3 linked regions of the Homo sapiens genome follow. The protein of the gene in region 1 purifies or fractionates together with the protein of each later gene. This does not show direct contact. Each region holds a gene or a part of one and is shown in the gene's direction. Other genes may lie near its edges.

Region 1 (7,892 bases):
TCCCTTTTCATTTTGCCCTATCTTCATTCTCTTTAAGGTCTCATCTTCTTTTTTTAAAAAACATATTTTCCTTAGCTTCTTTTTCCTTTCCTGCTTTGGTTTTCTTTTTCCTTCCTTTTGTTCCACCTTTCTAAATTATTTTCCTTTTTCAGACTGCTCTGGGTGAGAAGGGGTTAAAGAGGAGCCCAGCTTACCAAGTTCCTTGGCCCTTTAGGGTTTCCAGCCCCATCTGGCAGGGGCTGACCTTGGCCTTGTCCAATCAGAAGGGGTGTTGGGGGTGTGGTCCCCCTTGCCTCAGCACAGGGTTTCCGGAGCACACAAGCGAGGGGTGGAGCCTACTGCACAACCCCCCCCTTCTCCCTGAGGTTGGGAACAATACACCAATGAGCCTGGGGCTGAGGTTCTTCTGCTCCCTCCCACTTTGGTTGGCGCCTAGCCAGGTTAACCCCTTCCGCTAGGTTTCAGGGCAAGCTGCAGCTCCTTGGGGAGGAAGGTGTTGGCACTGGCTTGAGAGGTGTTGTCCTTGGAAACCCCAGGAACTATTATTAGCCAAGTAGAAAATGAGGGATAGTTAGGGCTGCATGTGATGTTTTAGAGCAAAGAGTCTCCTGAAATTGAAAAGAACTGGTAAACACAGTCTTGTGTGATATTTTTTCATCTTGAGTTCCTGGACCTCAGGCTGGTTTAGCAAGCAAGAGACAAGTGTGATGTTCTTGCTGGCCCGTTGTGGACTTTGGTGTCTGAGTACTGGCAGCTGGGTAGCGATGTATTTCTAGAGCATTCTTCGTACTCTCAGCAGTTCTTCTCTAAAAGCATTACTGATAGAGTTGGGAGCATCTATGATGGGGCATAGAGCTAAGAAGGAAAGCTGGTGGGATAAGGGTATAGAAGGCAGACGCCTGGGAAATGTGAGAAAAAAACAGCCAAGATAGGAAATATTTTCCCTGAGTTAGAGTTTCCAGGGTGGTGTTTTGCTGGATCCATTTCTGACTTGGTTTCTTCCTCTTTAATCTCCCAGGGGAGTTTGAAGAGGAATCAAAGCAGCCAGGGGTGTCTGAGCAGCAGCGCCATCAACTGAAGCACCGGGAACTTTTTCTTTCTCGGCAATTTGAATCATTACCAGCCACCCACATACGGTACAGGACAACTGGGGCCAGCATAGCCTGCGTGCACTTACGTAGAAGATGGAGAGAAGGAGGTGGTATTGAGAGATGCTGTGGGGAGGGAGAGTGGGGCTCACCGGGGTTTTCCAATCTCTCTCCTATAGGGGGAAATGCAGTGTGACCCTCTTGAATGAGACAGATATCTTGAGCCAGTACCTGGAAAAGGAGGTGAGAAAGAGATGTTGAGAGAAGAGCGAGGGGAATGGGTATTGCCCGCAAAAGAGAGGGGGAAAGGAGCACAATGATGAGGTACAGGGTTGCCAGACTGCCGGTCATGGAAACTCAGATACACCTCCCTCCCCGCCGCCTATGTGGATTGCTGCCTTGCTTACCTTGTCTCTCCCCAATTCCAGGACTGCTTTTTTTACTCACTGGTGTTTGACCCCGTGCAGAAGACACTTCTCGCTGATCAGGGCGAGATTAGAGTTGGTTGCAAATACCAAGCTGAGATCCCAGATCGCCTAGTAGAGGGTAAGCAACAGGACAAGACTGTACGGCTACCAGGTTGTCTAATTCCAAGGGGCACTTTAACATTATAGTCTCTGTGAATGGCGTCACCTGGGGTTGTGCAGTGCACTGTCTGCAGGGCTCTCTGCCATGACCCTGACAGAATGGGCCTGTAGGAACCTGAAAAGGGAAAATGGGAACAGTTGGGAAGAGAAGTCGGAGAGTTGATAGAATCCAAGCAGAAGAAGAGAAGGAGGAGGTGCTATTGTGAATGAAAAGACACCAACTGTTCCCCCCTGCCCTCTCCCTGTTGATGCCATTGTTCTTTTCCCCAGGAGAATCTGATAATCGGAACCAGCAGAAGATGGAGATGAAGGTCTGGGACCCAGACAACCCTCTCACAGACCGGCAGATCGACCAGTTTCTTGTGGTGGCCCGGTGAGGGGTGGGTGGATAGGGAAGATGGGCTGGGGGAGGTGTGGACATTGTTCTGAGTCCCATGGTTCTTAGAGATGGACTTTATTTCTTTCATTGCCATGGATGTTTTCCTTCTTTCTCCTTTGGCTTAATTTCCCAGCCCACTTGGGCTTTTGACTTTTCTTTCGCTTTTGACTTCTCAATTTCTCCCTTAGAGCTGTGGGAACCTTTGCAAGAGCCCTAGATTGTAGCAGCTCCATTCGGCAGCCAAGCTTGCACATGAGTGCAGCTGCTGCCTCCCGAGATATCACTCTGGTGAGCAGAAGTTGGTGGGTAGTTGGGCAGGCTGGGTTTTCTGGGGACTTGCAGAGCCTGGGAACAGAAGAGGAGGGTATCTCTGAGGGAGTGGGAGTGTTTTTTTTTTGTTTGTTTTGTTTTGTTTTGAGAGGAGTCTTGCTCTGTCGCCCAGGCTGGAGTGCAGTGGCGCAATCTCAGCTCACTGCAAGCTCCGCCTCCCGGGTTCACACCACTCTCCTGCCTCAGCCTCCCGAATAGCTGGGACTACAGGCACCCGCCACCACGCCTGGCTAATTTTTTGTATTTTTAGTAGAGACGGGGTTTCACCGTTTTAGCCAGGATGATCTCGATCTCCTGACCTCGTGATCTGCCCGCCTCCGCTTCCCAAAGTGCTGGGATTATGGGTGTGAGCCACCGCGCCCGGCCGGGAGTGGGAGTGTTTTAAGGAGCAGGAAGGGAGTGGTGCCAAAAGTTTCAGGTCCTCAGTTGCTCTCCATCTTCCCCATAGTTTCACGCCATGGATACCTTGCAAAGGAACGGCTACGACCTGGCTAAGGCCATGTCGACCCTGGTACCCCAGGGAGGCCCGGTGCTGTGTCGGGATGAGATGGAGGAATGGTCAGCCTCAGAGGCCATGCTATTTGAGGAGGCCCTAGAGAAGTATGGGAAGGACTTCAATGATATTCGCCAGGATTTTGTAAGTGGATGGCACTAGGAGGAGAAGTGGGAGAGATGACAGGTGAGGGAACCAGGACCTGGGGCCAGATGCCAGCTCATTCTTCCTCCCTCTGCCCCCCTTAGCTACCCTGGAAGTCACTTGCCAGCATAGTCCAGTTTTATTACATGTGGAAAACCACAGACCGGTATATTCAGCAGGTATTATCTGGGCTGGGGAGGGTGGACCATAGGCTACCTGCTGACCTCTGCCTTTGAAGTTGATGACATTCTCCCTGCTATGAGGCTCTGATCCTTCTCTTTCTTTTTACCTTCTTACAGAAAAGGTTGAAAGCTGCTGAAGCAGACAGCAAACTGAAACAGGTCTACATTCCCACCTAGTAAGTGTGGTGGGTAGGGGAGACCAGAGTGTTTTCCTTCCCTTCCCCTAACTTGTGCCTTCCTCAGTGATTGGGGGTGGGCAGGAGGTAGGGGCACACTGAGAGTGGAAATTGATTCTTTTCCTTGACCAGTTTCTTGTTTTTTTCCCTTCTCCTCGCCTTCCCCGTTAGCACTAAGCCAAACCCTAACCAGATCATTTCTGTGGGTTCAAAACCTGGCATGAATGGGGCTGGATTTCAGAAGGGCCTGACTTGTGAGAGTTGCCACAGTGAGTTACGGGGGCACTGGGATGGTGGGGATGGGTGGAAGGCCTGCTGTGGCTCAAGAATCTGAGGGGCTTAGGTAGTATGCTTCTTCCCTGTCCCCCTCCTCTCCGTACTCTACAGCCACACAGTCTGCTCAGTGGTATGCCTGGGGCCCACCTAACATGCAGTGCCGCCTCTGTGCTTCCTGTTGGATCTACTGGAAGAAGTATGGGGGACTGAAGACCCCAACTCAGCTTGAGGGGGCCACTCGGGGCACCACGGTAAGGATCAGTGGGAAGAAAAGCAGGGGAGAGCAGTAAGCATATTGATGGTGAGCTTAGGTGAAGGCCAGAATATTCAACTCTTTATATGGTGATGGTTTGATGGACGGGGTGCTTGATGCTGGTTGGGGAGACACATAGGCCAAGAGGTCAGTAAAGAGATTAGACAGGAATAAATTGTCCCCTGCAGGGAATGGAAGAAAGAAGGGAGCCTCAGTGCTGATTTCTGCTCTCTCTCTTTCCTATGCTCTTCTTCTAGGAGCCACACTCAAGGGGTCATTTATCCAGACCTGAAGCTCAAAGTCTCTCTCCTTACACAACCAGCGCCAACAGGGCCAAGCTACTGGCTAAGAACAGACAAACTTTCCTGCTTCAGACCACAAAGCTGACCCGTCTTGCCAGACGCATGTGCAGGGACCTATTACAGCCAAGGAGGGCCGCCCGACGGCCTTATGCTCCTATCAATGCCAATGCCATCAAAGCAGAGTGTAAGGGCAGGGAGTGGTGGGACTGGTGGTGGGTTTCGGATTGCTCTGCCCAGAGACCGTTGTTTCTCTGGATGTCTAATAACAGGAGGGATAGTAGGCCACAGATAATTTTTTTAAGATTAGAGTTGGCTTCTGGCCTTAGAGGAGACCTGAATGGTGAAGCCCTTCAGAAGCTTTCTTCTTTGTTCTCCAGGCTCCATTCGACTTCCTAAGGCCGCCAAGACTCCATTGAAGATTCACCCTCTGGTGCGGCTGCCCCTGGCAACTATCGTCAAAGATCTGGGTATGGGATGGGGACCAGTGAGGTTGGCATCAGGCTCCCAGTCCTTTCCCTGTCTGACATCTCTCCCCTTGCTTTTTTTCTTCCTCATAGTGTCCTCAGAGATTTAGTCTAACAAACTGTACTTTTGTTGTTTAATAATTTTTTTTGTAAACTATTCAGTATTACTGTACTGATTTGATAAGGTCATACTGATATTTGAAATACTAGTGATAGCTTGCCAGAACATTCCCCCATTGCTACTTTTGGGGATGCCCAGGTAAACTGCTGGTCCAGGGAAGAGAGATGGAAGTAACAAAGGGGAACTGCGTGGGAAGAAAAGGTGCGAAAGTTTTCTGTTTTTTTCCAGTGGCCCAGGCACCCCTGAAACCAAAAACACCTCGGGGTACCAAGACACCGATCAACAGAAACCAGCTGTCCCAGAACCGGGGACTGGGGGGCATTATGGTGAAACGGGCCTATGAGACTGTGAGTTGACAGAAAGGGGTGGGCCAGATTGAGTTGGGTGGGCTTTTGTCTCTCATAGGAGTCTGAGAGGGTCCCTTCCCTCATTGTGCCATCCTACCCCTTTTCCAGATGGCAGGGGCAGGGGTTCCTTTCTCTGCCAATGGAAGGCCTCTGGCTTCAGGGATTCGTTCAAGCTCACAGCCAGCAGCCAAGCGTCAGAAACTAAACCCAGCTGATGCCCCCAATCCTGTGGTGTTTGTGGCCACAAAGGATACCAGGTAAGGCGTCTACCATGGGAGGGGCTGAGAGGGACAGTCCAGGCTGGTGAGTGTGGGGAGTAGGAGTATCAGAGCAAGAGCTCCAGGAAAGTTGTGGATGCAGGGTGGGGATGCCAGAAAAGAATGGGCCAGAAGGCATAATTGCAGTGTGGGGCTTCACCTGGAGGTCTTAATGTTCTCTAAGCCTTTTCTGTTTCCCACTTGCTCTTTCTGGCCAGGGCCCTACGGAAGGCTCTGACCCATCTGGAAATGCGGCGAGCTGCTCGCCGACCCAACTTGCCCCTGAAGGTGAAGCCAACGCTGATTGCAGTGCGGCCCCCTGTCCCTCTACCTGCACCCTCACATCCTGCCAGCACCAATGAGCCTATTGTCCTGGAGGACTGAGCACCTGTGGGGAAGGGAGGTGGGCTGAGAGGTAGAGGGTGGATGCCCAGGGCACCCAAACCTCCCTTCCCTTTCGTGTCGAAGGGAGTGAGGAGTGAATTAAGGAAGAGAGCAAGTGAGTGTGTGTCCCTGGAGGGGTTGGGCGCCCTCTGGTGTTACCACCTCGAGACTTGTCTCATGCCTCCATGCTTGCCGATGGAGGACAGACTGCAGGAACTTGGCCCATGTGGGAACCTAGCCTGTTTTGGGGGGTAGGACCCACAGATGTCTTGGACAGTTTTGGGGGGAGGGTTTTTTAATTTTTTAAAAATTTTGCCTCCCTTTGTGAAAGGGGATGGGGAGGGGAAGAGTAAACAGATAACAGGTGGTGGTACCTGGTTGGGGGAGGGGGGCGTGCACTGCCATGTCTTTTTTTTTTTTTTTTTTTTTTTTTTTCCTAATTGGGGGTTTCTCTTTCTGTCCGGTGTCCGGACTTTCCTAATTGGAGTTTGAGGCCCCTAAGCTGGCATCAACCCCAGGCCACGCTCGCTCTTTCCTTCCCTCCCCTCCCCCTCTGCCTTTTGTACGCCAGTTCTCAGAAATAAAGATCTTTTGTCCGTTTTTTTAACCTCGGATTCTGTAATTGGTTCTTATAGTAACAAATAAAAAGCTGTTTTCTTCAGCTTCTCCTGGCTCAGCTGTTCTTTGCCATGGGTGTGTGTTGTGTGTGTGTTGGGGGTGTCTTTGAGAGGGAAAATAAAGGACAAAGGACAACAAAGGAGGTACAGATGGTTCTTGCCCTGGGAACAGCTTTATGAGATAGGCAGCCTGGACCCAGGCGGCTTGCTCCAGCTAGGCTTCTTGTGGGACCCAAACTGCTCCCCAGCTCCCAGTGGTGCTGGAGCTCAAGAACCATCTTGGCCCAGATTCATTCAAAGGAGTTGAGATGAGCTTTCTGGATGACTGGTGGCCTCCATAGGAAAGGGGAATGGGGGTGTTTCTTCCTCTGTTTCCCACCTCTTACTCCCCTCTCCCTTTTGTTTAAGGAATTCTGGAAGTTGCTAGCAGCCAGGGTAACATGTATACCCCCTTGGGGGTGGTGGTGGGGTTATAGGAGGATCCCCTCACCTAGCTGTGTGGTGTATTTGGCAGACGAGAATTCTACCACTGAACCACCCTAGCACCTCTGGGTGTATGTGTACAGCCTGCTGCTTCAGGATCCTCAAGGCCAGTCTCGATGATATCCCGATCCACTGTAGCACTGTTTCCTGCCTTAAAGGTTTGGGACACTGAGATTAGATGCCTGAGCTGGGCCCATTAGAAGGAACACCTTAGGATAGAGAACAAGAAGTTCAGCCTGCTGTGTGCTCCTTGGGCACTTCCTTTAGAGATGGGAAACGGCCTCAACAGTTGTGACTTGTTCAAGGTCAAAGACCTTGGTGTCTGCCTTAGGTCCACTGCTCTTTGCGCCATTCAAAGCTGTGGGCTGATAACCACAGCACAAGCTGCTGAGCCCATCTGATAGTTCTCTCCACCTCGTTATGGTCCCTGTCCCTAGGGCATCCCCAGCTCCCCGTAGTCCCTCCCTGTCCTGAGCCTACACCTCGGCGGCGTTGGGATGAACTGACAATTATACCAGGAGGGGGTTGACAGCATTCGCCCCCTCCAGTGTCTAAACTCAGTTACTGGCACTCGGTTTTGTCTTGTCGCACTGCTCTGAGGTGCGCCAGTAGCTCTGGCGCCTCCGGCGTACACCACGCAGCCCACTACTGCGGAAGGAATGGGCCTGGCTCCAGGACCTCGTGGAGTCCGGAAGGTGCCCGGTGGTGGCAGAGCTCCCCAACCAGGGCTAGAAGCCGTCGCAGAACACCCGTTTTGCGGGAGGACAGGGGGCGGAGGGAGGGAGTAACAGCCCTGAAAAGGTTGGAAGTCCAGGGACAGCCCTGGGCTCCGTGGGGCAAAGAATTGGAAGCCGCCGATCCTCCGCCTTTATTCGTCGGGTAAATAAGGGTCGAGGGTACAGACGCACGGGTGTCTACTGCGGGGTGAAGGAGCTGCCGCAAGATGCCACCCGGCGCCGGCCTTTGTGGCTGCTGTCATGAATATTCACGATGCTTTGGGCCAATCAAC
Region 2 (8,283 bases), on another chromosome or scaffold:
GTGCAGTGGCTCATGCCTGTAATCCAAGCACTTTGGGAGGCCAAGGCAGGTGGATCGCCTGAGGTCAGGAGTTCAGGACCAGCCCATCCAACATGGTGAAACCCCGTCTCTACTAAATACAAAAAAATTAGCTGGGCGTGGTGGCACATGCCTGTAATCCCAGCTACTCGGGAGGCTAAGGCAGGAGAATCGCTTGAACCCGGGAGGCAAAGGTTGTAGTGAGCCGAGATCACACCACTGCTATGCTCTAGCCTGGGCAACAAGCGAAACTCCGTCTCAAAAAAAAAAAAAGAAAAAATAGTGCCGATGTATTTTGTTTTGGGGAGAAGGCACTTTAACATATCAGTTCAGTGCTCTGGAGGCAGCTGCTGAGGTTCACATCTGGTTACATTTTGGGCAAGTGACTGAACTTCTTCAATCCTCAATTTCCTCTTCTATAAACGGGGAATAATAATATATACCTCATAGGAATCTGTGTGGGTTTGGTGGGATAATGAATGGAAAGCACAGTACCGTCAGTGCCTGGCTCCTAGGGAGCATTCAGTAACTGGTGACTGTCATTAGTAACGTTGTCTCACCTACCTTACTGCTGAACTTGGGGCTTTTCTCAGCACCATGGATCACCCGTGTCCGCACAAGAGTTGAGCACCCCACCCCAGAGCAGAACCAGCATGGTCTGACTCTTTCACACTCCGTCCTACGGAAGCCCATCTTCAGGGCCCATGGAACTTACTAGTAAAATGCAGAGAATCATAGCAACTCAAGAGTATTATTGTGAGGACAAGATAAGGTGGAATGTATGTGAAAGGGTTTTATGAACTGTAAAGTAGTATACAAAAGTAAAGCATTTTTGTTGATTTTATTTTAACCTTTTATGCTTTTAAGTTTTATTTCGCTGTTTTTTATTTCCCCTTTTTTTTTTTTTTTTTTTGAGATGGAATCTCACTCTGTCGCCAGGCTGGAGTGTAGTGGCGCAATCTTGGCTCACTGCAACCTCTGCCTCCCAGGTTCAAGCAATTTTTCTGCCTCAGCCTCCCGAGTAGCTGAGACTACAGGTGCGCACCACTACACCCAGCTAATTTTTGTATTTTTAGTAGAGACGGGGTTTCGCCATGTTGGCCAGGATGGTCTCCATCTCTTGACCTCGTGATCCTCCCACCTTGGCCTCCCAAAGTACTGGGATTACAGGCGTGAGCCACTGCGCCCAGCCTATTTCCCTTTTTTTAAAGACAGGGTCTCATTCTGTCACCCAGGCTGCACTGCAGTGGTGTGATCATAGCTCACTATATCCTCCAACTCCTGGGCTCAAGCCACCCTCCTGCCTCAGCCTCAGGTGCTGCCACACCCAGCTAATTATTTTTTTTTATTTTAATTTTTTGTAGAGACAGGATCTCACTTTGTTGCCCAGGCTTATCTCATAGCCCTGGGCTCAAGCAATCCTCCTGCTTCAGCCTGGAATTACAGGCATGAGCCACCGTGCCTGGCCTGTATTTCTTTTTTAATGCTTTTTTAAACCTGTTCTTTCCCCGCTTTTTTTAAACTTCTTTTTATTTATTTTTTTAAATGGCTGTTTTTCCTAATAGGACATATTCTCACCACCCAGGAATCCTAGCATGTACATAGATTTAATTGATGAGGGGAGATGGCAGTGTTCCCAGACCATCTGTGAAGGGTCCGAGTTTTCTGCTTCTATATTTACAGGCCCCTAATTGCTAAGAAGAATCCTAAGATCCCAATGTCTAAGATGATGACCATCCTTGGGGCCAAATGGAGAGAGTTCAGTGCCAACAACCCCTTCAAGGGGTCAGCAGCTGCTGTGGCGGCGGCAGCGGCAGCAGCAGCAGCAGCTGTAGCTGAGCAGGTGTCAGCTGCTGTCTCGTCGGCCACCCCCATAGCACCCTCCGGACCCCCCGCCCTTCCACCACCCCCTGCTGCTGATATCCAGCCCCCACCCATCCGAAGAGCCAAAACCAAAGAGGGCAAAGGTAGGGAACTCTCTTCCAACAACTGTCATCTCACCTTCCAAACTGCATGTCTTCACATTAGAGTCTGGAACTCTCGCCTTCCCAGCCCTGATTGCTGGAGGAGAGATGCTTTCCAGGAAGTGGGGCTTAGTGAAACCACAGCCCACAGAGGAATCCAGAGGCCCCTGTGACCTCCATAATTCCAGGATGTCATGACCTCTCCTTTTTCCTCTTCTCACCCCGACTCCTCATTCAGGTCCAGGCCATAAGAGGCGGAGTAAGAGCCCCCGAGTGCCTGATGGACGCAAGAAGCTTCGGGGAAAGAAAATGGCACCACTCAAAATAAAACTAGGGCTTCTGGGTGGCAAGAGGAAGAAAGGAGGCTCGGTGAGTGACCCGTCCCTGTCTACTAAACACCTGGGGGCCAAGGATCCAGAGACAGGGATCCGTGAGGGCCAAGGATCCAGAGACAGGGATCCGTGAGGGATGGCGGAACAGGAAGCCAAAGGCCTGGGGAGGGCGTAGAATGAAGTCTGCCTCACTGACGGCCACGGGGCTATGGGCAGTATGTTTTTCAGAGCGACGAAGGTCCTGAACCAGAGGCTGAGGAATCAGACCTGGACAGTGGCAGTGTCCACAGTGCCTCAGGCCGGCCTGATGGCCCTGTCCGCACCAAGAAACTAAAGAGAGGCCGGCCAGGAAGGAAGAAGAAGAAGGGTAAGGAGTGTTGACTGTGTGTGATCCTGTCAGTGGGCCGTCCTCTCATTCTTATTTTCAATTTTGACTTCTCTCTTCAACCCTTCTCCCTCTCTCTCTCCATCTCCCCCTGCCCTGCTTCCTTATCCCTCCACCGGGGTATATGACAGTCCTGGGCTGTCCTGCAGTGGCCGGGGAGGAGGAGGTTGATGGCTACGAGACGGATCACCAGGATTACTGTGAGGTGTGCCAGCAGGGTGGGGAAATTATTCTGTGTGACACCTGCCCTCGTGCCTACCACCTCGTCTGCCTTGATCCTGAGCTTGACCGGGCTCCAGAGGGCAAATGGAGCTGCCCTCACTGTGTGAGTACCTAATGCCAGCATCTGATGGCCCTGAGGAACCCACCCATCTCTTTCCCCCTTGGTTTCACTTACCCTCTTCCTGCCCCCAGATGGCTGGACTTCTTAGTAACAGATGTCCGAGTGTCTAGGATCCTAATGTATTCCTTTCTCCCACAATCAACATTTCTGAAACTGGAGTGTCCTTTTCCTTAGTTCCCACCAGTCTTCTCTGCACTTCTAGGATTCAGGTGTCCTGTCTTTGCCTGTATCTTCCAGTTTCATTCCTTAATTTCTTCCATCTGTCTGTGTGTCTATCCTTGGCCCCCTAGGAGAAGGAGGGGGTCCAGTGGGAGGCCAAGGAGGAAGAAGAAGAATACGAAGAGGAGGGAGAGGAAGAAGGGGAGAAGGAGGAGGAGGATGATCACATGGAGTACTGCCGCGTATGCAAGGACGGCGGGGAGCTCCTGTGCTGTGACGCGTGCATCTCCTCCTACCACATTCATTGTCTAAACCCTCCCCTGCCTGACATTCCCAATGGTGAATGGCTGTGTCCCCGATGCACAGTGAGTGGAAACATCTCCCCTCTGTATTTACTGTCAGGCCTGATCCCTTCCCCCATCCCTGGGGCCCACATGTCCAGCTTTTCATTTCTCTGCACTCCCCCACCCTTGTGGGACCCCTATCTTCTCATCTAACAATGGGTTCTTTCTGCCTCTTTCTTTCCTCCTCCTTGTACGTGTCCATCCCAAAGTGCCCCGTGCTGAAGGGTCGAGTGCAGAAGATCCTACATTGGCGGTGGGGGGAGCCACCTGTAGCAGTGCCAGCCCCTCAACAGGCAGATGGAAATCCAGATGTCCCACCCCCCCGTCCTCTTCAAGGCAGATCAGAGCGAGAGTTCTTTGTCAAGTGGGTAGGACTATCCTACTGGCACTGCTCCTGGGCCAAGGAGCTTCAGGTACTAGGACCTTTTCTTTCCCTCTCCCCCATGACCTCATTTCCTGCCATCCTCTCCCTCTCTTACTCCTCTGTTTGTTGGGTTCCCATACTCTTTGTTTTCTCTCATTTCAGGCCTGTGGCCTTCATACCCTACTTGCTTAGTTTCCATATGTGGTTCTTTTGGTCTACAGTCCTCTTTCTCTCAGTCTCCGTTAGCTTCCTTCCCTCAGATATAGCATAGCCTTTCCTAACTTCATGTCCTTCCTTATCTGTCTTTTTCCATGTTTTATAATATTCCTGGCTGGGCATGGTGGCTCACACCTATAATCCTAGCACTTTGGGAGGCCAAGGCAGGAGGATTGCTTGAGACCAGCCTGGGCAACATAGTGAAACCCCATCTCTGTTTAAAAAAAAATTCTCGGCTGGGTGTGGTGGCTCACGCCTGTAATCCCAGTACTTTGGGAGGCCGAGGTGGGCGGATCACCTGAGGTCAGGAGATCGAGACTATCCTGGCTAACATGGTGAAACCCCATCTCTACTAAAAATACAAAAAAATTAGCTGGGCGTGGTGGCAGGCACCTGTAGTCCCAGCTACTCAGGAGGCTGAGACAGGAGAATGGCGTGAACCCGGGAGGCGGAGCTTGCAGTGAGCCAAGATCGTGTCCCTGCACTTCAGCCTGGGCGACAGAGCGACACTCTATCTCAAAAAAAAAAAAAAAAAAAAAAAAATTCTCAATGTTTCTAATCCCATTCCCTATCTCTTGCTTGTAAGAGCCCCACCCAGGCCTTGTCTTCTGAAACTGTTGCATCTGTTTCATTTTATTTATTCTCCGTCTTGGCTTTGACTCATTTATCTCTAATCCATCCTTTTTCTTTTTTTTTCTATTTTTTTTTTTTTTTAGATGGAGTTTCGCTCTTGTTGCCTAGGCTGGAGTGCAGTGGCACGATCTTGGCTTACTGCAACCTCTGCCTCCTGGGTTCAAGCGATTCTCCTGCCTCAGCCACTCAAGTAGCTGGGATTACAGGCATGCGCCACCACGCTTGGCTAATTTTGTATTTTTAGTAGAGACGGGGTTTCTCCATGTTGATCAGGCTGGTCTCGAACTCCCAACCTCAGGTGATCCACCTGCCTCTGCCTCCCAAAGTGCTGGGACGCGCCTGTTATTCTCTTATTGCCCCGGCTGGAGTGCAGTGGTGTGATCTTGGCTCGCTGCAACCTCCGCCTCATGCATTCAAGCGATTCTCCTGCCTCAGCCTCCTGAGTATCTGGGATTACAGGCGTGCGCCACCACACCTGGCTAATTTCTGTATTTTTAGTAGAGACGGGGTTTCGCCATGTTGGCCAGGCTGGTCTTGAACTCCTGACCTCAGGTGATCCACCCGCCTGAGCCTCCTAAAGCACTGGGATTACAGGCATGAGCCACCGTGCCTGGGCCAATCCATCCTTTTTCATAGCTCCCTTTCCCTGTCCCATTCCTCCTGCCGGCCTCTTCCCGGTTCCTTGTTGTCCTCTGTGAGTGTCAGGACTATCTCTTTCCCTTTTTTCTGTGCCCTGCTAGCTGGAAATCTTCCATTTGGTTATGTATCGAAACTACCAGCGGAAGAATGACATGGATGAGCCCCCACCCCTGGACTATGGCTCCGGCGAGGATGATGGGAAGAGCGACAAGCGTAAAGTGAAAGACCCGCACTATGCTGAGATGGAGGAGAAGTACTATCGTTTTGGCATCAAGCCAGAGTGGATGACCGTCCACCGCATCATCAACCACAGGTGAATCCTCGGTCCCTGGGAAGTCAGACCTGGTATATGACATTATTCTTACCATGGTGATGGCCCCATGTTAGTATTTGCTGATTAACCAGGTAATTGATCTAACCTTGATAACCTCTGCTGTAGCTCCAGCCTTTCTGGCCTTGTTTCCTCCAGGGGAACGGGAGAAAACAGGAGGAAAATCCGGCCAGGCAGTGCCTCTTTTGTCCTTTGCCTCCTGTCATCTCCAGTGGCATAAGACATAGCACATGAGTCTGGGGATGAGGGCATGAAAGCAAAACATGAGAGACATAATTCATCCAGACCAGTGTTTTGAATGTTTCTTCTTCATAGTACTTATTACTGCCTAAACTTAATGGTATGTATTTAGTTATTTCAATGCTGCCTTCCCCACGAGACTCTGAGTTCCATGAGGAAAATACTTAGTGATTAGGTGAACAAATGATAAGGAGGGATCTCCAGGAATGTTTTGTGATAGCTGATTTTTAGGATACCATCCTGAGAAGGTTAGGCTGCTAGGTCAACTATTCCAATCTCCCTTCCAGCAGCTCACTGTTGACGGTTGGGTGACAAATTTTGTGTGTTTGCTGATAATTGCGTTTCTCAGGCCTTCTTTCTGTTTGTGATCTGTGCAATATTTTCCTCCTGCTCCTCCCCATGGCCTCCTGCCCCACAGTGTGGATAAAAAGGGGAATTACCACTATCTAGTAAAATGGAGGGACTTACCATATGACCAGTCCACGTGGGAGGAAGATGAAATGAATATCCCTGAATACGAAGAACATAAGCAAAGCTACTGGAGACACCGGTGAGGGAATGAGCTTGTGGATTCAAGGGATTCTGACGATGAGGGCATGAAAGCCAAAACTCCAGCATAAAATGAGGGTACAGTAGGGCCTGATTCAACCTGGAGTTCAGGGCAATGGCCACCTGAGCTGGGTTGTTTGAGATAGGCTTGCTAAAGAGGTAGTGTAAGGAACAGAAACAAGATCTGGCTGAGTAGTGGAGAAGAGGATGTTCAAGAGTGGGGAGGGCTGGCTCTTGAGGTGAAATCCAAAGGGCAAGGGTAAAGAGCCTGGGAAAAAGGAAATATGGGAAAATCTAGGTCATGGACAGTGGGAAGTAGGTCTGGAATGGGTTCAGAAAAGAAAGCGTAGGACTCCCAAGGATGAGGCCTCATTCAGACCCACTCTTTTTCCAGAGAACTAATTATGGGGGAAGACCCTGCCCAGCCCCGCAAGTATAAGAAGAAGAAGAAGGAGCTACAGGGTGATGGGCCTCCCAGTTCTCCCACTAATGATGTGAGTCCTCTCAGTTGTCATTTCTTGTTTCTGGAGTGATGGTGATCGAAGATTTTCCAAGGGCTACTGATGGAACTTCCCAGAGATTCAGTAACCTCTGTGAACAGTAGCTCTTCCTTCAGCATCCAGTCTTGCCCCAAGAGTGGCTAAGAATTTTGGCCTGAAAGGGCAGGAGCCACTAGAGATAGCCCACTGGTGGCTCTGTCACCAGCTGGCCCTTCCCCATGGTGCTGCTGGATATTGTCTTAAGGAATGAGGGGGAGGGGCTGAAGACTAGATGTGAGAACTTTTGTAAACTCAGGCCATAGTAGAGGGAATTGTAATCCAACTTGGTATCCATGCCAGGGAGGAAGAGACTAAGACTGGAGGAGCCGCCGACTATTTCCTTGAGCTTTCTGACTTCTTGTCTCTATAGCCTACCGTGAAATATGAGACTCAGCCACGGTTTATCACAGCCACTGGAGGCACCCTGCACATGTATCAGTTGGAAGGGCTGAACTGGCTACGCTTCTCCTGGGCCCAGGGCACTGACACCATTCTAGCTGATGAGATGGGGCTAGGCAAGACCATACAAACCATCGTCTTCCTCTACTCACTCTACAAGGAGGTGCTGGATTCTAGGACCTTGAAGGGGACCGCCTGGACTGGGGAAGTGGGGAGGGGGAAGATAAAGGGGTGTAGCTGGCAGAGGACTAGGGTATACGGCCTCTAGCCTAGACTTATGCTGCCCCCATTCTTGACTCCCAGGGCCACACAAAAGGTCCCTTCCTGGTGAGTGCCCCACTCTCTACCATCATTAACTGGGAGCGGGAGTTCCAGATGTGGGCACCCAAATTCTATGTGGTGACATACACGGGTGACAAGGACAGCCGGGCCATCATTCGTGAGAATGAATTCTCCTTTGAGGACAATGCCATCAAAGGGGGCAAGAAAGCTTTTAAGATGAAGGTAAGACCCTCTACCTCATATCCTCTGAGACCCTCAAAGCTGTCACTTCTTTTTCTCAGCCAGGAATTCAGTTTCTCTATTCCCCTCCTCACCTTTCTCCTCTTCCTCCACCTGTCCTCCTGTCTCTGCACTACCATCCTAGAGATATGGCAGGTACTCCCAGGGGCATACATGGATCTGTCGGTACTGGAAATGTGGGCAGAGGTTTAGGAGCCATGGTCTGTAATCCCTGCTTGGAGAACAGAGTAATGGCTCCTGTTGGGAGCCACAGTCAGGACAAGGTGTCTGGTTCTGGAGGTGTAGGTGCATGGTTGTCAGGTGGCA
Region 3 (8,283 bases), on another chromosome or scaffold:
GCCATATACTATTTTCCTGAAATTTTTCCTGAAGTACTGCTTTAGACCTGTGTTTTCGCTCCTTAAAATCCATACTCCAAATTGCTTGAACCTGGGAGGTGGAGGTTGCAGTGAGCCAAGATCATGCCATTGCACTCCAGCCTGTGCAACAAGAGTGAAACTCCGTCTCAAGGAAAAAAATAAAAATAAAATAAATCCATACTCCAGCTGGGCATGGTGGTTCATGCCTGTAATTCCAACACTTTGGGAAGCTGAAATGGGAGGATCACTGGAGGCCAGGAGTTTGAGCCCAGCCTAGGCAACATAGGAAGACCTCGTCTCTATAAAAAGTAAAGTTAGCTGGGTGTGGTGGCGCCGGCCTTTAGTCCTAGGTATTCAGGGGGCTGAGACAGAAGAATCACTTGAGCCCGGGATTTTGAGGCTGCAGTGAGCTGTGATTGCACCACTGCACCCCATGCTGGGTGACAGTGAGACCCTGTCTCTAAGAAATCCCTACTCTATGAAGGCCTTCCATAAAGTAGACTTAACTTAGATTTTCAAATTTATCTTTCATCTGGGCCCTTTCCTACATGTTTTTCTCACAATATGCTTCCTTTTTTTTTTGTTTTGAGACAAAACCTTGGTTTGTTGCCCAGGCTGGAGTGCAGTGGTACGATCTTGGCTGACTGCAGCCTCCGTCTCCTGGGTTCAAGTGACTCTCCTGCCTCAGCCTCCCAAGTAGCTGGGATCACAGGGGATCACCACGATGTCTAGCTAATTTTTGCATTTTTAGTAGACACGGGGATTCACCGTGTTTCCCAGTCTGGTCTCGAACTCCTGACCTCAGGTGATCCACCCGCCTCGGCCTCCCAAAGTGCTGGGATTACAGGCGCGAGCCACTTCGCCCAGCCAAACATAAACCATTTATATTTGCAGCAACACTTAACCGTGGAAATATGTAGATTATAAAATTAGATATGAAAATCCTCGGCCGGGTGTGGTGGCTCACACCTGTAATCCCATTACTTTGGGAGGCCGAGGCAGGTGGATCACCTGAGGTCGGGAGTTTGAGACCAGCCTGACCAACATGGAGAAACTCCATCTCTACTAAAAATACAAAATTAGCTGGGCATCGTGGCGCATGCCTGTAATCCCAGCTACTCAGGAGGCTGTGGCAGGAGAATCGCTTGAACCCGGGAGGTGGAGGCGGTGGTGAGCCGAGATCACGCCATTGCACTCCAGCCTGGGCAAGAAGAGCAAAACTCTGTCTCCAAAAAAAAAAGTCGGGCATGGTAGCTCATGCCTGTAATTCCAGCACTTTGGGAGGCTGAGGCAGGTGGATCACCTGAGGTTGGCAGTTCGAGACCAGCCTGACCAACATGGAGAAACCCCGTCTCTACTAAAAATACAAAAAAAAAAAATTAGCCAGGCATGGTGGCGCATGCCTATAATCTCAGGTACTTGGGAGGCTGAGGCAGGAGAATCGCTTGAACCCAGGAGGCGGAGGTGGTGGTGAGCCAAGATCATGCCACTGCACTCCAGCCTGGGGATTGAGTGAAACTCCGTCTCAAAAAAAAAAAGAAAAGAAAATCCTCAGAACGTTGCCTATGACTTCATGTCTTTCTCCCTCAAAGTATATCTGAATGCAAGTGATTGAGACTAACGTAGAAATAATCTTCAGTCTGCTCTGATTCTTGATTTTTGAGACAAGGTCTTGTATGGCGACAGGCAAACACCACCATGCCTGGATATTTTTTTTTTTTTTTTTTTTTTGTTGGGAGGTCTCACTGTGTTGCTCAGGCTGGTCTCACCTGAGCTCAAGCCATCCTCCCTCCTGAGCCTCCCAAAGTGCTAGGCTTACAGGTGTGAGCCACCATGCCTGTCCTTCTCGTTCATTTTTTAAAATTGTTCAAAGCTGCCTTTTTTAGCGACAAAACACTTGGATACTCCATAACTTGAGACTCCAGTGAGTCCATGACAACAAGTTTGGAAACTGTTCTACATATAAAATAATGAATATTTAACAGGCAAAATTAAATGTAGGGCTAAATATTTAGTAGCTGGCTATAAGCCTAACGATGTTTACACTTGCCTTCACAAGTAAGTGTGGATTTTATTGTTTGTATTTAATCTTAATGATAATGTGCAAACTTTCACTTTTCTTCTAGGGCACTGTAAATTGGTCTGTTGATGACATTGTCAAAGGCATAAATAGCAGCAATGTGGAAAATCAGCTCCAAGCTACTCAAGCTGCCAGGTAAGTCTTGTCTGCGATAGCATGGGTAGCCTAAGAAATTTGTGTTTTTAGATTTTTTTTTGGGGGGTGGGGCAGGAAGGGACAGACAGATAGTACAAGGAAAGATTAGGCCAGCCAGCCATAAGCCAAATAGTATTTTTTATTTATTAATTTTTTTGAGAGGGGAGGCCTTGCTATTTTGCCCAGGCTGGCCTGGAATGCCTGGGTTCAAGCAGTCCTCTGACCTCAGCCTCCTGAAGTGCTGGGATCACAGGTGTGTGCCATTGCACCTGCCCATAAAGTTTTTACCAAAGTAATGTTTCAAGTCACTGGCAGGGGAAGGAAGAAATAAATAGTAAGTGGGATTGAGACATGCATTTAGAATGATAGATCCATTTAGGAGATAAGTATAATTTGACCTTTACCTCCCACTATACGTGGATATTTATGATATAATAGAAAGGATTAATAAGTTCTATAGCTTGACAGTGTGCAGAAGAAAAATTTCAATGGTAAATTATCATTAAAAAGTTCTAGGCTGGGTGCTGTGGCTCATTCCTGTAATCCCAGCACTTTGGGAGGCCAAGGGGTCGGTTACTTGAGCCCAGGAGTTTGAGACCAGCCTGGGCAACATGGTGAGAGCCAGTTTCTACAAAAGAAATTATTAGCTGGGTGTGGTGGCACATGCCTGTAATCTCACGTGTTTGGGAGGCTCAGGCACAATAATCACTTGAACCCAGCAGGCGGAGGTTGCAGTGAGCTGAGATCTTGCCACTGCATTCCAGCATGGCGACAGAGCAAGACTCTGTCTCAAAAAATAAATAAATAAAATAACTTGGGTGTGGCGGTGCACACTTGTCGTCCCAGCTACTAAGGAGGCTGAGGTGGGAGGATCACTTGAGCCCAGGAGGTCGAGGCTGCAGTGAGCTGTGATCGTGGCACTGCACTCTAGCCTGAGTGGAGTGAGATCCTATTTCAAAAAAACAAAATGTGCTTAACCACAACTATCAGAACAAATTCAGTGAGAGTATAACCCTGTCAGAATGTGAAAAGTTTTTTTAAAAAGTGACAAGATCTGGAGTAGATTTCTGCAGGGATGGAAAGGAGGGTAATCTACATTAATTTCTGGAAAAATGGTAGTTAATTATACCGCATACATAGCACCATACAAGTAATCTGTTCAGCTTCTCTTAGGTTCCAGAATGTCTCAGCATTTAGTGATTTACTTAAAAGGTTGTCTGAAGTTCTAAACTCTTGAATTGCATTTTATATTGGTTTTTACACAAACTCCTTTTGTTAATCACTGTCAACTTTTATTTCTCTTTTTGTTCCCCTTTAGGAAACTACTTTCCAGAGAAAAACAGCCCCCCATAGACAACATAATCCGGGCTGGTTTGATTCCGAAATTTGTGTCCTTCTTGGGCAGAACTGATTGTAGTCCCATTCAGTTTGAATCTGCTTGGGCACTCACTAACATTGCTTCTGGGACATCAGAACAAACCAAGGCTGTGGTAGATGGAGGTGCCATCCCAGCATTCATTTCTCTGTTGGCATCTCCCCATGCTCACATCAGTGAACAAGCTGTCTGGGCTCTAGGAAACATTGCAGGTACTTGGACTTGAAGTTCTTTTGACTGAATGTATCTAATCGTAATTAGTTGGAAGAAAGGCCTTGTTATAAGTAATAGTGACTTTGTCAAGTTTTGAGCTTGCTTTCAAGCCCTTATTAGGAATGAAAGTGTCGTCTTTACAAAGGCAGCAGAGGGCCATCTAAGTAAGTTTGGGAGTTTTTGCTGGTGCATTCAGTCACTGAAAATTGATGGTGTTGGACAAGGTAATAAAATTAATCTTGCCTCGGCCGGGCATGGTGGCTCACGCCTGTAATCCCAGCACTTTGGGAGGCAGAGGCGGGTGGATCATGAGGTCAGGAGATTGAGACCATCCTGGCTAACACAGTGAAACCCCACCTCTACTAAAAATACAAAAAATTAGCCGGGCGTGGCGGCGGGCGCCTGAGGCTGAGGCAGGAGAATGGCTTGAACCCAGGAGGCGGAGCTTGCAGTGAGCCGAGATCGCGCCACTGCACTCCAGCCTGGGCGACAGAGAGAAACTCCGTCTCAAAAAAAAAAAAAAAAAAATTAATCTTGCCTTTTTTTTCAGGTGATGGCTCAGTGTTCCGAGACTTGGTTATTAAGTACGGTGCAGTTGACCCACTGTTGGCTCTCCTTGCAGTTCCTGATATGTCATCTTTAGCAGTAAGTTACTAACATGAGTAAAGTTACTCACTTCTTCATTCTAATTTCCCCCATCTTCTCAAAAGACAGAACCTCTCATTGCCTATTTTTTTTCCCCCAGTGTGGCTACTTACGTAATCTTACCTGGACACTTTCTAATCTTTGCCGCAACAAGAATCCTGCACCCCCGATAGATGCTGTTGAGCAGATTCTTCCTACCTTAGTTCGGCTCCTGCATCATGATGATCCAGAAGTATTAGCAGATACCTGCTGGGCTATTTCCTACCTTACTGATGGTCCAAATGAACGAATTGGCATGGTGGTGAAAACAGGAGTTGTGCCCCAACTTGTGAAGCTTCTAGGAGCTTCTGAATTGCCAATTGTGGTAAGTTATTTACTTGTAGATTAGGACATAAGTATAAGAAGCATGATCAGGGCTGGGCGTGGTAGTGGTGGCTCACACCTGTGTAATCCCAGCACTTTGGGAGACCAAGGCAGGTGGATCACCTGAGGTCAGGAGTTCGAGACCAGCCTGGCCAACATTGTGAAAGCCCATCTCTACTAAAAATACAAAGAAATTATCTGGACATGGTGGCACGTGTCTGTAATCTCAACTACTCGGGAGGCTAAGGCAGGAGAATTGCTTGAATCTGGGAGGCAGAGGCTGCAGTGACCCGAAATCGTGCCATTATACTCCAGTCTCTCAAAAAAAAAAAAAAAAGCATAATCAGTTGATAGTAATATTGAAATATTGCCTATTTCAGGCCATGATGGGCCTCTTGTTAAAACTTTTAGGGTATAGAATTTCTAAAGTGCTGGGGAAAAAATAACCAGCATCAACATATTTTTTTTTTTTCAGACTCCTGCCCTAAGAGCCATAGGGAATATTGTCACTGGTACAGATGAACAGACTCAGGTTGTGATTGATGCAGGAGCACTCGCCGTCTTTCCCAGCCTGCTCACCAACCCCAAAACTAACATTCAGAAGGAAGCTACGTGGACAATGTCAAACATCACAGCCGGCCGCCAGGACCAGATACAGCAAGTTGTGAATCATGGATTAGTCCCATTCCTTGTCAGTGTTCTCTCTAAGGTAACGAAGTCTTAGGATTTAATCAAGTCATTTTTAGTATTTATAGAAAGCTGTGCTTGATAAGCTTCTTCACGTGCAAGAATCTTGGGTTCTACTAGGAGTCCTTTGCTGAACAATACCCAGTAACCCCTTTTACTTAAGGTTGGATAGAACCTTGGTACTTTCAGTCATTGTTTTTGTGAAAAAGTACTCTTGGAATCTTATTTGTGCAACTGTTCTGAAATAAAACCATTTCCTTATGTTTAATAGGCAGATTTTAAGACACAAAAGGAAGCTGTGTGGGCCGTGACCAACTATACCAGTGGTGGAACAGTTGAACAGATTGTGTACCTTGTTCACTGTGGCATAATAGAACCGTTGATGAACCTCTTAACTGCAAAAGATACCAAGATTATTCTGGTTATCCTGGATGCCATTTCAAATATCTTTCAGGTAAGTCCTATCAAGGTGGCTTTGTTTGAATTTGGACTTGATAATAATCAGTTTACTATTTAGACTTGGGGGAGGGCAGCTGTAAGTTTACTCACTAGTAAGCCACAGAATCAGAAAGCCTGTTTATGTGGCCACCCCTTTGATTAAAAATGAGGCAGGCATTATAAAAGATACAAAAGAGACGACAAGTGGATGGTGTGACCTGAATCGGAGTCAGGCGCTTATGTGGACTCATCACACCTGTTTACTTGGTTGATTTAATTTCCCAATTTCATACCGATTTTTGGTGACATTAAATTTGAATGACTTGGCCAGGCACGGTGGCTCATGCCTGTAATCACAGCACTTTGGAAGTCCGAGGTGGGTGGATCACCTGAGGTCAAGAGTTCGAGACCAGCCTGGCCAACATGGCGAAACCCTGTCTCTGCTAAAAATGCAAGAATTAGCCATGTGTGGTGGTGGGCGCCTATAATCCCAGCTACTCAGAAGGCTGAGGCAGGAGAATCGCTTGAACCCGGGAAGCGGAAGTTGCAGTGAGCCAAGTTTGTGTTATTGCACTCCAGCTTGGGCAAGAGTGAAACTGTCTTAAAAAAAAAAAAAAAAAAAGTTGAGCCTTCAATAATGGATGCTAGCGTATCTGTTACTGTGTATAAATAATTTGTCAGTATGTGGCCAGTATTTCTTCTTCCCCTCATCTAATCCCCTAAGTTATTTTGAAGCAAATCTGTTTTTTTCATCTATAGATATTTATGTATCTCTTTAAGGTTGAAAATTTAAAGGAAAACTAACCTACATACCATTCCATATGTCCAGTAAATCCTTAATACCAACACACATTCTGTTTGGGGACGTTTAGTTTAGCACTCCATAGGCCATCTTTGCCCTTAGACACCTTGACTACACCTTGTGATGACATAGGATGCTTTATGAAACAATACACCCCTGTTCCCATAGCAGACCAGTTGAACTGGAATGTAGTGTTGTTTTAAAAGTTGCCCGCATGATTTTGATACATAGAAAAGGTTGGGAGCTACTACTGATTGTAAGATCTTTGGCTCCAGTTGAAGTAGTGCTAAAAGCAGGTACAGATCCAATCACATTGAGTGTCAACAAAATATAAAATGGACATAAAACTATGATAGGCTTGATGAAGGAATTGTTAGGTGCTTATTTCTGCCTGACGTATCAATATTCAAATTATTGATGTTTTCTTCATTAAAATAAAACCAGAGTATATGCCAGTAAACTTGGATTTTTTTTTTTTTTAGGCTGCTGAGAAACTAGGTGAAACTGAGAAACTTAGTATAATGATTGAAGAATGTGGAGGCTTAGACAAAATTGAAGCTCTACAAAACCATGAAAATGAGTCTGTGTATAAGGCTTCGTTAAGCTTAATTGAGAAGTATTTCTCTGTAGAGGTGAGTAATGGATGGTAATATTAATAACAACTTGGAAACATAAAGTCAAGGCCATAAGCCTTTTTTTCCCTTTTAAAAATAAGTGTCATATCTTTGTTAAATATAGTAAAATATCAGTGTGCATGGGACATAATGTACTTATTTGCCCCTCTAGTTTGGCTTGATGGTAATAAAATCTTTTTAAACTGAGATTTTAAAAGCCACCAGATTAGTTTCAAATGAACAACCTTGAGAATCTTAGAATATCTTGAGGGTAAGTTAACGGGTGTCATTGTAGGAGGTGATAGAGAAGTAGGCCAAACTCATCACCATGCTCTGGGCCTAATACAGTCTTTTCCTATTGAAAAGTGACGGTTGGGGAAGAAAAAAATCTCGGCCTGTTTGTGTTACTGTAGTAGCTAGCATTTATGAATTGGCAAAGTTTCAGAGACCCTCCCTCCTCTATGTCAAATACTATAATATCATACAGGATTAAAGGTGTAATATGCAGATCAAGACCTAGAGATTAAATACAGACTTCAGGTAGGCTGCTGCTTGGAATACTTATATCATTTTTATACTTATTTTTTAATATATTTCCAGGAAGAGGAAGATCAAAACGTTGTACCAGAAACTACCTCTGAAGGCTACACTTTCCAAGTTCAGGATGGGGCTCCTGGGACCTTTAACTTTTAGATCATGTAGCTGAGACATAAATTTGTTGTGTACTACGTTTGGTATTTTGTCTTATTGTTTCTCTACTAAGAACTCTTTCTTAAATGTGGTTTGTTACTGTAGCACTTTTTACACTGAAACTATACTTGAACAGTTCCAACTGTACATACATACTGTATGAAGCTTGTCCTCTGACTAGGTTTCTAATTTCTATGTGGAATTTCCTATCTTGCAGCAT

Evidence for each region. Proteins that work in one complex are often made in the same cells at the same time.
Region 2: the proteins of MTA2 (region 1) and CHD3 purify together in Homo sapiens (affinity purification with mass spectrometry; 8 studies listed by BioGRID and IntAct, with this or other methods). This does not show direct contact.
Region 3: the proteins of MTA2 (region 1) and KPNA2 purify together in Homo sapiens (affinity purification with mass spectrometry; 4 studies listed by BioGRID and IntAct, with this or other methods). This does not show direct contact.

Annotation. Positions count from the first base shown.
Region 1 is NC_000011.10:62,591,766-62,599,657, reverse strand, and holds the end of MTA2 (metastasis-associated protein MTA2), read left to right. Parts: intron 1-1,018; coding exon 1,019-1,136; intron 1,137-1,267; coding exon 1,268-1,331; intron 1,332-1,516; coding exon 1,517-1,634; intron 1,635-1,945; coding exon 1,946-2,048; intron 2,049-2,242; coding exon 2,243-2,342; intron 2,343-2,832; coding exon 2,833-3,021; intron 3,022-3,125; coding exon 3,126-3,200; intron 3,201-3,320; coding exon 3,321-3,379; intron 3,380-3,550; coding exon 3,551-3,648; intron 3,649-3,766; coding exon 3,767-3,906; intron 3,907-4,165; coding exon 4,166-4,394; intron 4,395-4,587; coding exon 4,588-4,677; intron 4,678-5,023; coding exon 5,024-5,142; intron 5,143-5,250; coding exon 5,251-5,399; intron 5,400-5,617; coding exon 5,618-5,783; 3' UTR 5,784-6,444; downstream 6,445-7,892. UniProt on the Homo sapiens protein: May function as a transcriptional coregulator. Acts as a component of the histone deacetylase NuRD complex which participates in the remodeling of chromatin.
Region 2 is NC_000017.11:7,891,585-7,899,867, forward strand, and holds part of CHD3 (chromodomain-helicase-DNA-binding protein 3), read left to right. Parts: intron 1-1,701; coding exon 1,702-1,985; intron 1,986-2,220; coding exon 2,221-2,351; intron 2,352-2,530; coding exon 2,531-2,681; intron 2,682-2,830; coding exon 2,831-3,024; intron 3,025-3,332; coding exon 3,333-3,566; intron 3,567-3,754; coding exon 3,755-3,958; intron 3,959-5,498; coding exon 5,499-5,710; intron 5,711-6,386; coding exon 6,387-6,518; intron 6,519-6,911; coding exon 6,912-7,011; intron 7,012-7,426; coding exon 7,427-7,618; intron 7,619-7,758; coding exon 7,759-7,959; intron 7,960-8,283.
Region 3 is NC_000017.11:68,038,531-68,046,813, forward strand, and holds part of KPNA2 (importin subunit alpha-1), read left to right. Parts: intron 1-2,147; coding exon 2,148-2,236; intron 2,237-3,554; coding exon 3,555-3,823; intron 3,824-4,374; coding exon 4,375-4,469; intron 4,470-4,569; coding exon 4,570-4,833; intron 4,834-5,307; coding exon 5,308-5,541; intron 5,542-5,790; coding exon 5,791-5,973; intron 5,974-7,241; coding exon 7,242-7,391; intron 7,392-7,973; coding exon 7,974-8,066; 3' UTR 8,067-8,283.